2 separate regions of the Homo sapiens genome follow, and region 2 is linked to region 1. Evidence: fine-mapped expression QTL. Tissue or cell type: whole blood. Region 1 holds a variant in brackets; the other region holds the start of a gene. All regions are shown on one strand. Distances are between the middles of the regions.

Region 1 (7,737 bases):
TCCTGAACTCCATAAAGAGCCCCATCCATTCCACCAAGTCAGAGCCCTAGAAGGTACCCTCACCTCCATCCACCTCCAAACTTTCACCAGATCCTGCCTATTCCACCTCAGGGGAAGTTTATCAATTGAGTAGCCCAACAGGTTTAAGACTGCAGGTGCAGGGAGGCATGGATGCGCTTTATTTCTTGGACATGGCTCAGAGGAGGGGCAGCTCCAGAGCACAAGGGCAGGGCGAGAGGCAGCACAGGCCAGCAGGAGAGAAAGCCCTGTAGCCCAGATCACACACAGTCTCACCAGACCCCCAGCTGTGCATTGGCTGCTGCAGGCATCTCCCCTCCCTGCCTCAGCCCAGGCCTCCACCAGTCAGCAGCTGAGCTGGCCCAGCTCCCCTCCACAGGAACAGCCTGCAGCTTGCCCTGTGCTCACCCCCAACCCCCTACCCCATTCTCCTTCACTATGAAGTTCCTCTGAATACAAAGCCCACCTCTCAATAACCTATCCCAAGATAATTTGATAGTGCTAACTTGAATTTCTGAACTCCCTGCCCTGTTTCCCAGCATGGTCCTTTCTCTATGCCAAGCTACTTCTACCTACTAAATAGCTATTTTCCCTCAAATCTTTCTTAACTCCTGTCCTCCATCCCTGCCTTGCCTTACCAGAGTATTATGTTGTTTTGTTTTGTTTTCCTTTTTTTTTTTTTTTTTTTGAGACGAAGTCTTGCTCTGTCACCCAGGCTGGAGTGCAGTGGCACGATCTCAGCTCACTCAACCTCCGCCTCCCGGGTTTAAGCGATTCTCCTGTGTCAGCCTCCCGAGTAGCCGGGATTACAGGTGCATGCCACCACGCCCAGCTAATTTTCGTATTTTTGGTAGAGATAGTTTCGCCACGCTGGCCAGACTGGTCTCAAACTCCTGACCTCAGATGATCTACCCGCCTCGGCCTCCCAAAGTGCAGGAATTACAGGCGTGAGCCACCGCGCCTGGCCATCTCTTGAATTTACTGAATTCCCTGCTCCCTTCCTGGTCCTTCATACCAACCCTTTTAGAGGGGTTCTTTGCACAGCAGCTGAGTGATCTTAATAAATGTCCATCTGGGATGGGGAGCCACTGGCCAGTTAAAGCAGGGCAGTGACAGGGTTAAAGTCCCAGCACCTAGTGCAACCTATGTAGCCTTCCCTGGCCTGGCCCGTCAGCTACCTCAGCCCCACTGCAACCCTCTAGGTACCTCAAACAGCTGGCAGGTCCCGGCACATCCCACCCGGCATCACACCTCTGGTTTTGGCTGGGATGAAAGGGTATTCCCACTTCAGCCTGTCACTTGACTAACTCTGACTGTCCAGCTTCCAGGCTCTGGGCATCTCCTCAGGAAGCCTTTCTGACCCTCCTGGGTCAGTGTTGCCACAGCACATGGGCTCCTGTCACCTGCTGCAGGAGGCAGAAACTGCTCATGGATCTGTCTCCCTTCTGAGAGCTTCTCCAGGGCAAGATCCATATTTTGCCCATCTGGGCACACACAGTAAATGTTTGCATCAGTCAGCGTCCAAGCAGGCAACAAGGGGCCACTTGAATTGGGATAATGTGAGGAGAATTTAACAAAGGGACTGTTTACAAAGGTGTGGACCAGTACAGTGGGTGCTGTAGTGCCCTGACGCCAAGGCCCCAAGAGTGTAGAGCACTGCCTGAGGGGCTGTGACATATGACTGAAGAGTGTGGTCAGCCCTGCAGGAATGGGAGCCCGCTGATGCAGTCCATACAGGTCAGCCTCCTGGGGCACAGGGCAGGGTGGAAAAGGGTGAGAGGGACCCCGAGGGACAGATTAAGATGTCCAACCCAGGGCTCAACCAATGTCAATTGAACAGAACTTCACTGATGAGACACCCTGAGCAGGGTTCCACAGACCGACCACTTCTCCAAGGAGAAAACAACATTCCAGGCCAAAGATGTGCCAAGGCTCACCTGTGGGGTCAGCATGGCTTATGCCGGTGTAAAGGCAGCAACAGTACCGACAGGGTTGGAGAAGCAATGAGCAAAGTCGAGGTCTCCAAGTGGGACAAACCCCCGCCTCCAGGTTGAGAGCACCAAGTGAGCAGAGTTCCTCCGCCAGGCTGCAAGGGACTTCCTTAGCTTGGGTTTTCCAGATGAGGAACTGGGTCTGGAGGTGAGTGGTGGCCCTTTGTGGGGATGGGGAAGAACCCACACTCTTTCTTCACTTGATAACTCACTCAGCAAACATTAGGAACCCACTTGAAAATGGGTGTTAACAGCTCCAGGGTGAGCCAAGACCCAGGAAGCCCCCAGTTGGCTAAGTGCAGAGAATGAAGACTGGCCCATTTCCTTGGCAGAGTAGATGACCAAGCTGTGGAGTGACAGGAAACAGTGGTGTTAAATAAGGCCAGGAGCCAACCTCCAGCAGGAAGCACTGACCTCAGCTTGGGCCGGAAGGTGCTGACCTAAGAGGCAACTGGAAGTAACTACAAGTATCCACAATGGTCATCCAACAGATGCTTCCGGAAAACTATTTTAATAGCTGAGGGAAGGCACATTACCAAGAAATATTTCCACCACAGGTCAGTGCAGCAGAAAAAGCAGAAGAAATGTGGTCAGGTGGTCCTGACTTCAAATCTCAGCCTGCCACTTGACTACAAGTCCCTTAACTCTTCTCAGCCTGGGTTTTCTCACACATAAATCAGATACAATAATCACACGGCATCATTGTGAAGACTTGGAAGAGAATATGCAAAGTGTCCAGCACAAAACTGGCATAAAGCAAGCCCTCAATAAATTGGTTTCTCTTGTCTGTTCCTACTACCAT[A/G]TGCCACAGACCAAGGCTGAAAGAGATGTGGTTTCTACCTCGGTGGGCAGCCAGATTGTCGCAAGAAGTTGGCAGCATGCCAAGACCAGGTCAGAGCCCTGGATTGAAATGTGAAGTTCCAGAAGGAAAAGGAACAGCACTGCTGCTGTAGGAGAATGGACAGGACTTCGTAAAAAACAAAAATGAGGCTAGGCGCGGTGGCTCACGCCTGTAATCCTAGCACTTTGGGAGGCCAAGGCAGGTGGATCACCTGAGGTCTGGAGTTTGAGAGCAGCATGACCAACATGGAGAAACCCCGTCTCTACTAAAAATACAAAATTAGCCAGGTGTGGTGGCGCATGCCTGTAATCCCAGCTACTCGGGAGGCTGAGGCAGGGGAATCACTTGAACCCGGGAGGTGGAGGTTGTGGTGAGCCGAGATCGTGCCACTGCACTCCAGCCTGGGCAACAAGAGTGAAACTCCGTCTCCAAAAAAAAAAGAAAAGAGAAAAGTAGGACAAACCCAAAAGTGACTCCAAAGTTGTAAGATTTGTAAGGCAGGAAGGTTGCTGGTGCCACTGCTAAGACAGTCCTGAGAGGTAAGGGCAGAGGCAGAAACCAAAGCTCTGAGAAATGTGACCAGCTAAAGTGACCTGAGATGCGAGCCAGTGGCTGAGCCCAAGCTAAAGCTTTGGCCTCAACCCCCCACCCAGAGCACTGCACATGCAATCATGTGGACCAGTTCTCCCCACCTCACTCTGTGAGCCAAATGGCCCCAATCCTCCGATGGCCTTGACTGCTGGCCTCAACCCTTCAGTAAACTGCAGCCTTTCTACATTTTCCAACACCTACTCCAGCTTTAGGGCCCAAATCATGGCAATCAGCAGATAAACAGTGATCAAGTGCATATCTCCATGGATTGCAATGTGGCTTCATTCCTGTAATTCTACACCACTATTTATGAACCATTGGCTCACTATGACTCCCAGATGCTCTCTGTCCTCCTTATACACAACAGGTCCCACCTAGTCTCACCCTTAAGACTGTCAACCCTTGGGGCCAGGGAGTTCTTTGTTGTGCGGGCAGTCCTGCACATTGTAGCATGGCCAGCAGCATCCCTGGACTCTACCCACTAGATGCTGCCCCCAGTTGTGACAACCAACACTATCTCCAGACATTGCCAAATGTCCCCAGCTGAGAACCACTGCCTTATCTCTTGTACAGCCTTTTTTTTCCCCCTAAACATGAAGAGTAAAAATACGTGCCAGCTTAAGCAGTTATAGACATCATAGAATATCTTAAACTGGAGTCATAAACTGGAGTTTAATGGGGAAACAGAAAACACTGGGCATCTGGCCAGTGTGGGTGAAGCCCTTGGGATAAGGATCTATGTGGAGACAGGCAACTCTGTCCACCATGGGTCCTTGTAGACACTCCATAATGTCTTAATTTTTACCAACCCCTATACTAGATGTCTATATGCAGACTCCTAAATTGAGAATACAAATTTTAACTTTTCAGCTCTCATATTTTTGTGCATCTACTAAGCATCAGCGATAGAACTATGAACAAGACAGAGACTGCTCCTGAGCCCATGGGCTTGCCCAGTTTCAAAGTGCTGTAAGAAGTGCTATGCTGAGGACCAACAGGGCTCAGCCTGGGCCCCACAGAGGAAGGAGAACACTGGCCCAACTCTACCACTTACTTACTGTTTCCTATCTTTAAAACAGGGACACCAGCCCTACCTACTACTCAGAGTTGTCACCAAGGCCTGGAGTCACAGAAGTTCTAGGCTGGAAGAAACTTTCTAGGACTAAAAGGTGAAGGCACTGCAAACTGGAAAGTGCTGCATAGAGGTAGAGGTCTGCCAGGGGGGTTCAGAAATCACATGGATCCCAGTGAGGAAGCACCTACTCAGAAGAAAAAGCAGTGAGGTGGGCTCTGAAGCTTTCAGACCCAGTGAGGAATGCAGGGGTCGGAGAGGTTTCAGACCACAGCTCACAAACATCCTGCCTCCCTCTGACCCATCAGCACCACATACTCCAACCACCTGGTCCACATGCCTTGGGAAGTCCTGCTCCTCAGCGCAGCTGAAATTCTCTCAACTCCTCACAAGCAATGCTGCTTCCTGCCCCTCAGGCGGGACAGGTATGGCCCCATTCAAAAGTATTTTTCGGGCCAGGCATGGTGGCTCACGCCTGTAATCCCAGCATTTTGGGAGGCCAAGGTAGGCAGATCACTTGAGATCAGGAGTTTGAGACCAGCCTGACCAACATGTTGAAACCCCATCTCAGCCAGGCACGGTGGCTCACGCCTGTAATCCCAGCACTTTGGGAGGCCGAGGCGGGTGGATCACAAGGTCAGGAGATCGAGACCATCCTGGCTAACACGGTGAAACCCCGTCTCTACTAAAAAAACACAAAAAATTAGCTGGGCGTGGTGACGAGCACCTGTAGTCCCAGCTACTCAGGAGGCTGAGGCAGGAGAATGGTGTGAACCTGGGAGGCGGAGCTTGCAGTGAGCCAAGATAGTGCCACTGCACTCCAGCCTGGGCGAAAGAGCAAAACTCCATCTCAAAAAAAAAAAAAAGAAACCCCATCTCTACTAATAACACAAAAATTAGCTGGGCATGGTGGTGGGCGCCTGTAATCCCAACTACTTGGGAGGCTGAGGCAGGAGAATCACTTGAACCTGGGAGGTGGAGGTTACAGTGACCTAAGATCACGCCATTGCACTCCAGCCTGGGCAACAGAGTGAAACGGTGTCTTATGTCACAGTTAGATGCAGTGAAAAGAGCTGGACTGGGCATGAGAAAACTCAAGTTCTAGTCCCAAATCTGTTACTCTCATATGTGAAATGTGGTTGGCTCCTCAGCTCCCCAAGTCGACATGGTCATCATGAATGGTCTAAACCACAATGGTGGGAATCCACTTCAGCTTTGTTTTGAAATAAACTGTTCTGAAGCTATAGGTGAGTTAACTCCAACAAAGCCTTGCCCTCAATTATGGGGACCCAGCCTGGAGAAACAAAATCCAGAGATAACCTTGAAACCTAATTTCAGACAAGGATTTCATCCTTCTTTACCTGCAAACCTTTTACCAGACCTGGCAGTGTAACTGATGAGTTAATGCAGTTGGTTGACAGGATGCTAGTAGACACACGGACAAATGAAAGCCCTGCTCCCTGACCCATGTGTACCTGCCTCTTTGCAGACATCAGCCATGGCCAGCCAGGAAGGGCGCTGGGTTAGCCTGTGGGGATGGGGCAGCACAGCCCACTCCCTGCCTGGGAAACCCACTGGAGGCCAGGTATAGTATCCCTTGAGAAGGCCAGCACCCAAAGGTCTCTCTTTCTCTCCTCTTCCTGTGCTGGGCAGCCCCCTGAGAAGTGGTGCCAATCAACAGGGAGCTCAGTGGGGAGCAGGGAGAGCAGCTGTGATCACACACTGGATCATCAGTCAAGATCGGCCAAGAACTGTCTCTACTGAGCATGTAAACACTTGGCCTCAAATCAGTTGCCAATCAAGGTTTCATAATATCCAAAGGTATCACAATTATTCAAGAGTTCTTGTGAAACTACCAAAATAAAATAAGTTTAATTTTCATTTAAAAAATGCCTGCAGCATGTCTTATGAAACAGCCTGCCATAATATCAAGCAAATGACAACAGATTACTGTTCCCAAATCTAGCTGGGAATCACCATCTTTATACTGAAAGTTGAGAAGCAAACTCATCACCACTTTCAGCCCAGGAAGCCCAAATAATTCAGAAAATTACTAATATTTGGCAAAATAATTCAGCAAGAAGGTGTCGAAAATGCTGGAAAGAACTTAATTGTGATCCGTTACCATTCTCCCGGTGGGAAAGAATGAAACAGAAGTCCCATGATTTTAAGTATGAATTACAAAATTAGAGGAAGAAAAGACATGCAGCTGCTGGTACAGATTCGAATTTCAGTTAAGCATTTGAGTCCAGTATCATACAATTTTTGTCAAAAACAAGATTTCTCAGCCACTGAGAAAGAAAATGAAAGACCATGAGAAGAGGCCAAGAAAGGCAATGAGAGGCCCGAGCAAGGACACTGAGGAGGCTGCGCACGGGGAGGTTGGAGCGGAACGGCCTTGGGCTCCCACCTGCACAGTAGGATCTCACCCCCGGATTGACCCCGGCCCTGGCCCTCCTCCACACTCTTGACACAGGAGGAGGCACGCCTCCAGTGAATTCTGCCTCACGGTGGCTGCTGCCCTCCTAAGTGCAAGGCTGGGCTTGAGAATTTCAGGGGAGAAACTCAGTAGTGAGTGCTTCTCCTCAGCTGCAGCAGCTGGTACTTAGTGGCTCTTAATTTCCCTGCTTTCTGTGCTACTTCCCAAAGGCACACAGAAAGCGGACTGGACATCTGTGCCAGAGATGACTAGCTTCAGGAGTGCCGATGGTGGCAAGGCCTCTCTGCACATGCTTTGGTCAGGTCCCCCTCACCTCATCAACAGCCAAGAGCACATCCCTCAATGTGGCTGGTCCTTAGGAGTCACACCCACTGGCCAGAGGTCCTGAGCACCAAGCCCTCAAGCAATAAGCTCCCAACTCCTCCAGAGGCTGTGGCTAGTTAGCAGCAGGGTTCCATCTGGAACCCAGGTCTCTGACTACAGTAACTAACCTAGAGCTCTTTCCTCACATTTCTTCAGCAGTTATCTAGCAGAGGGAGTAGGATCATGAGCGGAGCTAGCCACTTCAGCAAAGAAAGTGTGATGAAGTCCATGAACCCAGAGAATAAAGCCCTTTGGCCTGTCAGGGGCAGATTCTTAAGGGCACAGAAGGGGAAAAACAACAAAAGCAAGTTTATATTCACAGGGAAACATAATCTGTGATTATAAATATTTTATGGGCAAAGAAAGCAGCACTGGCTGAGAGACTGGGGTGGAGAGGGTGGACAGCAAATTAGATTCCAGC
Region 2 (7,737 bases), 22 kb after region 1:
ATATCTCTTTCACTCCATCCTCCCCTTCTCTCACACCAAGTCTGTGGCCCTGGAATCACCTGTCTGGGTCTCAACGACTCTCTGTCAAGCAGAGATCATATTGGGAAAAGCAAAGAGGTCTGGAAATGGAAGTGCTTTAGCTTCACTCATGTAAGGGATCATTTTAATGTGGACAATCCTTCTCTGAATTATCCAGTACAGACTAGATCTGCAGGATAGTTTGTTTACCAGATCCTGGCCAGGAAGAGCAAGCTCGTTCCCTGATTCTCAGGGCAGCACCATAGGTGCCTCTTTAAGATCATAGCCCTGAAAGTGTTTTCAGTTTAGAGTGGACATGGTAAATTACTTCCTCTCTTTTCTAAGACATAAAAGATTTTTTGAGTTTTTAACAGAGGGCTCTCCTACTCTGAGTGGTTTCACTGGTGAATGGTAAGCTACTTTACTATGACCTTTTTAAATATTCAGCATATTACCTGACCCAGAACAACATTTCTGAGATCTGAACTGCAGTCTTCTCTTGCATACTAGTTGTCACTGTAAATACACATGTAAAATCACACCAGGGTAAGCTACAACCCAGACAAACCATGAGCCTATAAAATAGAAGGCTAAACCATAACCTGCTTTTCGAGACCCCCCCTACAGCCCTAAGAACTATCCAAGTAACCTGACAGTAGGAAAATCCACCTTAGGTGTGCCCAGGCATGATAATCCCAAAGACATAAATGGAGCAAAATAGGTTTTAAAGAATTCTTGCAACACTGAAGACTAGGAGCTAAGAAGAGTCTAAATAACCATGCTCAGTGCCCAACCACCTGAAAAGTGGACTCCAGGGAAATTTTGTTGTTGTTATCCACCCCGCCCCAAGGGAAACATTTTATCTTTAATATTCAGGAGCAATAATAAAATATTTTGGCCACTGTTCTTCAAGGATTCCACAAGGCACTTAATTCTCATGTCAGGCTTTCTGAAATGCTTGCCCTGGAAAGTGTCACTTGATGGCTCACACACTCCTTGAGGATTAGGTGCTGACCCTAATTAGGCACAGGCAGAAATAGTTCAGGAATCCACATGCTCAGATTCATAACTATACTTTTTGTAAAAAATAAAAACATATAAAAAATGCCTTCTGGCTGGACAAGGTGGCTCACGCCTGTAATCCCAGCACTTTGAGAGGCTGAGTTGCGTAGATCGATTGAGGTCAGGGGCTGGAGACCAGCCTGGGCAACATGGTGAAACCCTATCTCTACTAAAAATACAAAAATTAGCCAGGAGTGGTGGCTCGCGCCTGCAGTCCCAGCTACTCGGGAGGCTGAGGCATAAGAATTGCTAGATCCCAGGAGAAGCTGCAGTGAGCTGAGATCGCACTGCTGCACCCAGATCTCCCCAGCCTGGGCAAGAGAGACTGTCTCAAAAAAAAAAAAAAAAAAAAAAAAAAAGGCCTTCTAGTGATCCTCAGAAATCCAAAAACCAGACAACTATGGCTTCCACTTCCATTTTTCAGATATCCATTATAATACTATTTGACCTCAAAGTGAATTTTATTGTTCCACACAAGCAACAGATTACACCAATTTCACAACTCCCAGAATCCAAACCTACAAAGACCCTTCCCACCAAGCACTTTACCAAAAACGGGCTTCATCTCCATCTTCCTTTCTTTCACAGTTGAAAAACTGCCCTTCCTAATTAAGCCAACCAACTTCTTACCTCAATAAAATCCTTGTTTTTCAGTAGCACGTACAGTATTTCCAGTGATGAACAGTGAACTGTCTTTCGTCTCACACAGTAACCTCCGTGAAGAAGATCCACCTTGTTCTTTACTGTATATTCCTGGCATGCTAACTGCATCCTCAGACAATTTTAAGTGACTGAAAACTCAGGCAAAGAAAGGCAAGAGGGCAAATAGAAGGGCACAGGAGACAACGCTTTTCAAATTTTTCTCACTGCGACCTACAGAAACACACTGTAGAACACCTCCTAGTACACTCACACGTGTGTGTACACCTGAAGTGTCAAGAAACAATACCCTAAGTGCAACACCCTCTGATATTTTCTATTTCAAGTGGCCGTGATCTACTAAACTGATTTCCAACTCACCAATAGGATTCAGTTTGAAAAACACTGCAATAAATCAAACCTTACAGTTGCATTCCACAAGCTACTAATGAACTCTTGAAAATCCAGCATACAGCAGAGACGCTGACCAACTACAAGATCCAAACCCCCCAGGTGGGCAGTGTCCTTCTGTTCAGCAGTGGCAGTTCCCCACCACCACCAGCCCTGAGAGTTAATTATCTCCCAAACTCCCAGAGTTTCCCAAGTAGCCTGAGGTGTCTGTCATATGCCCTTTTAACCTCTTTATAAATTCAGTCCCGTCCGTCTCTTACGGTGGCAAAGTTCATTTATCGTCGGCTGTGGAAAGCAATACTTCCTTTTTGTCCCCTCCAGGAACCAGAAATTAAATGACCAGGTTGGTGCCCGTTGTGCCTTTATGATCTATTTGTGTGGGTGATATATAGAAAGAGTCTCAGTCTCTCCCTTCATCTTTCCAGTCTTAATCACTGGTAGATGCAGTCTCTGGTGAAATAAGAAACCAGGGAACCCCCTGGCCTGGGGGAGGGCGCACTCATCAGCGTTGACAGAGTGAAAGCAAAAACTCAATCCTCACACCACAGAGGCGTCTGGCTAACTCATCTCCAGACCTAAGTTGGGAAAGGGGAGGGGAGCGCGGAAAGCGGAGAAGCCGGAGGAGACGCTCCGGAGTGACCAGCGACGGCTGAACGCAGCCCGCCCTCCCCAAGTCGACGCCGCAACCCGGGGAAAGCAGGTGAGCGCCGGCCACGGACTTGGGGGTCGCAGAAGCAGCCCACGGAGAGCGGAAGGGAGGAGGATCCGGGTAAGGGGCCTCCCCTCCCCGTCGGGACCCCCCTCCCCGTCGGGACCCCCCCCTCCCCGTCGGGACCCCTCCCACTGACGCTCTGCCTCCCACTCTGGCCTCTCCTCACTCACCCCGGGGAGTGGGCCTCCCCTACTGCAGAGAAAGGAAGAGGAGAAGGAGGGAATGAGGACTTAACGCCCACCCCTGCCCCCCACCATACCGCTCTCGCCGCCCGGGAAAATCCCGCCGCGGGCCCCACCAGCCAAGCGCCGCCTTCGCCCCACGCGGCCTCTTCCTAGCGCCTGCGCGCCAGGCCCAGCCCGGCGGACGCGATCTGAGAGTGCGCGCGCACCTTGCGTGCGCCGGCGTGCGGGGCGGGACCTGCGGGGCTCCGCCCCCTCCCCCTCCCTCCCCCCGCTCCCCCTCCCCCATACACTGCCGCGGCCGCCGCAGGAGCCCGGAGCTCGAGCCGCCCAGCGACTCCCCCTCCCCCTCCCCCAGCCCCGCCCCGCCCCAACCCGGGGCTCCGAGCCGGAGCCGAGTCTGCGCCTGGGGGTGAGTACGCGACCCCTACCCAGCCCTCGCTCTTTTCTTCGAAGATCCCACCACCACCCAAAGAAAAAACCTGGACTCAGCTGCGCGTCCCCTCCCTTCAACCTCCTGCGGGACCCAGAGGTGCCCGGGCCCGCGGGACCCAGGGGTGGCGCGCGCTGCCCCCAACCCCGCACCATCCCGAGCCAAATGTGAGTCCTCCAACCCCTGCCGGAGGTCCAGATACGCGCCGCCGGCTCTCCCCAGCCCCGGGGAGATCCCAAAGGGTGGGACCCCCGCCCCCGGCCCCCGAGTGCCACTCTTCTCCCACCTGCCCGGTGCAGGTGCGCGTCCCCTGCGCGACCCTCGGGGGTGCCAGCTGCGCCCCGCCTGTCCGCCGCCGTTTGGGGAACTAGCCGCCCCCGCCCCCGAGTTTTGGACCCCGGGGTCGCCAAGTCCGATGCCTTCTGTGCCTTTTATTTTTTCTGCTGCTCCCGGGGGCGAGTACACCCGAAGCCGGTCCGGGGTAAGGGCTCGGGCTCGGGCAAGGGCAGGGTTCGCAGGTGCTGGCACGAGGCCGGCCGCTGCCCCCGGCTCTGGGGACTGACTGGTCGGCGGGCTGGAGAGGCGGCCGGCCCCGGGAGCGTGTCCTCTCCTTGCGCCCCACACAGTGCAGTTCATTCATGAGCCGCCCGGGCCTGCGTTGGAGGGTGCGGTGGGGAAAAGATTCAGACGCGAAACCGAGAGTGGGGCAAAGGCCCTGTTGTGGGGAGGGGGCGCCGCTTTGTCCCTCCTGGCTGTCTTGACCGCCTAAGGCGGACAGTCCCAAAGCTTGGCACCTTGTTCCCCAGAAAAGGAAAGGACGCTTGGGAAGTGGGGAGGAGAGGTCAGAGGGGCTGGCTGCCCTTGGGGCGCTGTGCTGCCCCCTGCCTGGGTCCCCTGGGCAGAGGTCTGGCCGCTCGGGGCAAGCCTGAGCACTCCACCGCCCTGGGGGGCTGGGGCTTGCCTACCCATTACCAGTCTGCAGCAGCCGGGGAGCAATGAGGCTGTGCCCAACACCTGCTGAAGAGGGGCCCATCCTGCCTCCCAGGCCAGGGTGAGGTGGGGAGTGGGAGTGTCAGCCAGGCTTCAAGTGGGGGTGTGCTGGCAGCGTGATTGTCCTCCAGGGCACCAGAGGGTCCAGGCCTTGGCATGCCCCAGGTGGCACATGCTGGGGCCTGCTGTTGGCTCACTCAGTGCAGTCTTGGCCTGTGGGTGGATGGGGACATGGCAAGGCAGAAGGCAGGCAGTGGGTAACTAAGAACCCCCTTGGACATCATTCAAGTTCTCTCCAAGTATAGCAGAGTCTTAGAGACCTGCGTTCAAATTCTAGCTCTACTATTCTTCAGCTGTGTGACCTTGACAAGTTACTTAACCTGTCTGAACCTCAGTTTTCATTAAAAAGTGTTTATGCCTATAATTCCAGCACTTTGGGAGACTGAGGCGGACAGATCACTTGAGGTCAGGAGTTCGAGACCAGCCTGGCCAACATGGTGAAACCCCATCGCTACTAAAAATACAAAAATTAGCCGGGCATGGTGGCACACACCTGTAATCCCAGCTACTCAGGAGGCTGAGGCAGGAGAATGGCTTAAACCTGGGAGGCGGAGGTTGCAGTGAGCCGAGATTGTGGCACTTCACTCCAGCCTGGGTGACAGAGCAAGACTGTCTCAAAAAAAAAAAAAAAAAGAAAGAAAAGAAAAAGAAAAAAAGTGTGGTTACTACCACCTCCTTACAAGTTTTATCATGGGAATCAAACAAGGTAACAGAAGTAAAGAGCTTGGCATCCTTCCTGGTAATTGATCAATAATGGGTTATCATCTCTGAACTTCTGACCCATAACTCTCCCATGCCTCCACCTCCCAGGCTACCACAGATGGATGGGGTATGTTCAAAGAGTGAGAATATTCCCTGTCACTCAGTGGCAGAGTCCCTAACACAGTGTAAACCCTTAGGTCTAAATAAGAAGCCCAACCTGACTGAGGGGCTCTGTTATATTTCTATCATGTTACATTCTGTGTTTTTATCTTATTTTTGTTTTTACCAATTTTCTTTCTCTAAACCAACCCCTTTTATTCCATACCTTATTAATAACAATAACTAATTCCTAGAGCCCATTATATGCCTTGAACTATATTAAGAGCTTTACATAAGTCATCTTGTTTAATCCCCAGAACAACAACACAACTGGATTATTGTCCCATTTTACAAATGAAGAAACTGAGGCCCAGGGTGACTAAGTAATTTTCCCAGGTTAGAAGCCTGGTCTGTCACATCCTAGAGTCTGTGCTTTTAACCACCAGACTATGGTGCCTGTCCCCTATGCCTGCCTCAGAACCTGAAATCACAAACCCAAGGCCTGAGTGGAGGGAAGCTACAAGCAAGAGGAAAGGCAAGCAGGTAGAAATAGGGTATGGCATTTCTCCAGTGTGGTAACTGACTGCCTCCGGCTCCCTGGTGGAAGTGGCTCTTGTTTGCAGATAACTCTGCAAAGTGCAGTGGTTAAGAGCATACACTCGAGCCAGGCAGCCTGGGTCCTTATCTGGGTCTACCACAGACTGGCTGTGTGACCTTGAGCAGCTCATATACTCTCTCTGTATCTCAGTGTCCTCCTGGGGTTGTGATGGGGAGCAAATGAGTTACATTTGTAAAGTGCTTAGAACAGTGCTTGGCACAAAAGAAGAGTTAAATAAACATTTAATACTATTATTTTACTACTTTTTTTTCTTTTTCTGTTTTTCTTTTTTCTTTCCTTTTTTTTTTTAGACACGGTCTCTGTCTGTCGCCCAGGATGGAGTGCAGTGGCATGATCTTGGTTCACTGCAGCCTGGAACTCCCTGGGCTCAGGTGATCTTCGCACCTCAGCTTCCGGAGTAGCTGGGACTACAGACATGCACCAGCATGCCCAGCTAAATTTTGGTGGTGGGGGGTATCTTTTGTAGAGACGGGGTTTTGCTATGTTGCCCAAGCTGGTCTCGAACTCCTGGGCTGACGTGATTCTCCCACCACAGCCTCCCAAAGTGCTGGGATTACAGGTGTGAGCCACCATGCCTGGCTTTTTTTTTTTTTTCCCCTCGAGACAAGGTTTTGCTCTCTTGCCCAGGCTGGAGTGCAGTGGCATGATCATGGCTGACTGCAGCCTCCAACTCCTAGGCTCAAGGTATCTTCCCCACTTGGCCTTCAAAAGTGCTGAGATTACAGGGGTGAGCCACCCCACCCTGCCTACTACTACTTTTTTTTTTGAGATGGAGTCTCACTCTGTCGCCCAGGCTGGAGTGCAGTGGCATGATCTAAGGTCACTGCAACCTCTGCCTCCTGGGTTCAAGTGATTCTCCTGCCTCAGCCTCCCGAGTAGCTGGGACTACAGACGCATGCCACCACACCCAGCTAATTTTTGTATTTTTTTAGTAGAGACGGGGTTTCACTGTGTTGGCCAGGCTGGTCTCGAACTCCTGACCCTGTGATCTGCCCAGCTCGGCCTCCCAAAATGCTGGGATTACAGGTGTGAGCCACCGTGCCTGGCACCTACTACTACTTTTATGCTCACTTGTGGATATATTCTTGCCTTTCTCTCTGAAGTGGGTAGGGGTAGAGTAAGGATATTTGTATCTCTTTGTTACAGATTGGAAGACTGAGACTCAGGTTTCGTAGTAACAGAGCTCGCTTCCATCTTCCCCTCCTCCCCTCAGACCACATGGCCTTGCTTTGATCCAAAGCCCTAACTTAAATCTTGCCCAGTAACTCCACTGAAAAAGCTTATATCACTCCTGTAATCCCAGCACTTTGGGAGGCCGAGGTGGGCAGATCATGAGGTCAAGAGATCGAGACCATCCTGGCCAACATGGTGAAACCCTGTCTCTACTGAAAATACAAAAATTAGCTGGGCGTGGTGGCATGTGTCTGTAGTCCCAGCTACTCAGGAGGCTGAGGCAGGAGAATCCCTTGAACCCAGGAGGCAGAGGTTGCAGTGAGCCAAGATCGCGCCACTGCACTCCACTCTGGTGACAGAGCGAGACTCCGTCTCAAAAAAATACACAACAACCCCCCCAAAAAAAAGCTTATAAGTTATAGCTCTCCAACCCCCACCATGCACACACTCCTTAATGGTAAAATTAAAAAGTTAGCTAGAAGTAAAATGCTCCATCACTCTCTGGACACACCTCAACCAAAACCTCAATATCAGACTAGAGAAACTGGGATATAGCTGGTGCAGGCACCTCGTGGAGTGGAAGAACTGCCACCTCCCATCCCCAAGGTATTCTGCCTCAATGTCTTCCCTCTTCTCA

What was found. PIP is the estimated chance that this variant, and not a neighbour inherited with it, causes the effect.
Region 2: MRPL14 starts here. The variant in region 1 is fine-mapped to the expression of MRPL14 in whole blood (INTERVAL, PIP above 0.99).

Annotation. Positions count from the first base shown.
Region 1 is chr6:44,102,422-44,110,158 of GRCh38, forward strand. No RefSeq gene overlaps it. Among named protein-coding and RNA genes, the nearest start is that of MRPL14, 21 kb to the right of the region's middle. RefSeq lists enhancers at 1-322, 323-871, 1,974-2,143, 3,986-4,155, 4,993-5,492 and 1 more. The variant A/G (reference allele first, on the strand shown) is at 2,812.
Region 2 is chr6:44,124,243-44,131,979 of GRCh38, forward strand. It overlaps MRPL14 (mitochondrial ribosomal protein L14), which reads right to left and starts at 3,210. Exons shown (of 3, transcript NM_032111.4): 1 at 3,102-3,210. TMEM63B (transmembrane protein 63B) reads left to right here and starts at 3,312. Exons shown (of 24, transcript NM_018426.3): 1 at 3,312-3,436. RefSeq lists silencers at 2,943-3,002, 3,033-3,082, 3,103-3,502, 3,543-3,652, 3,833-3,992 and 1 more.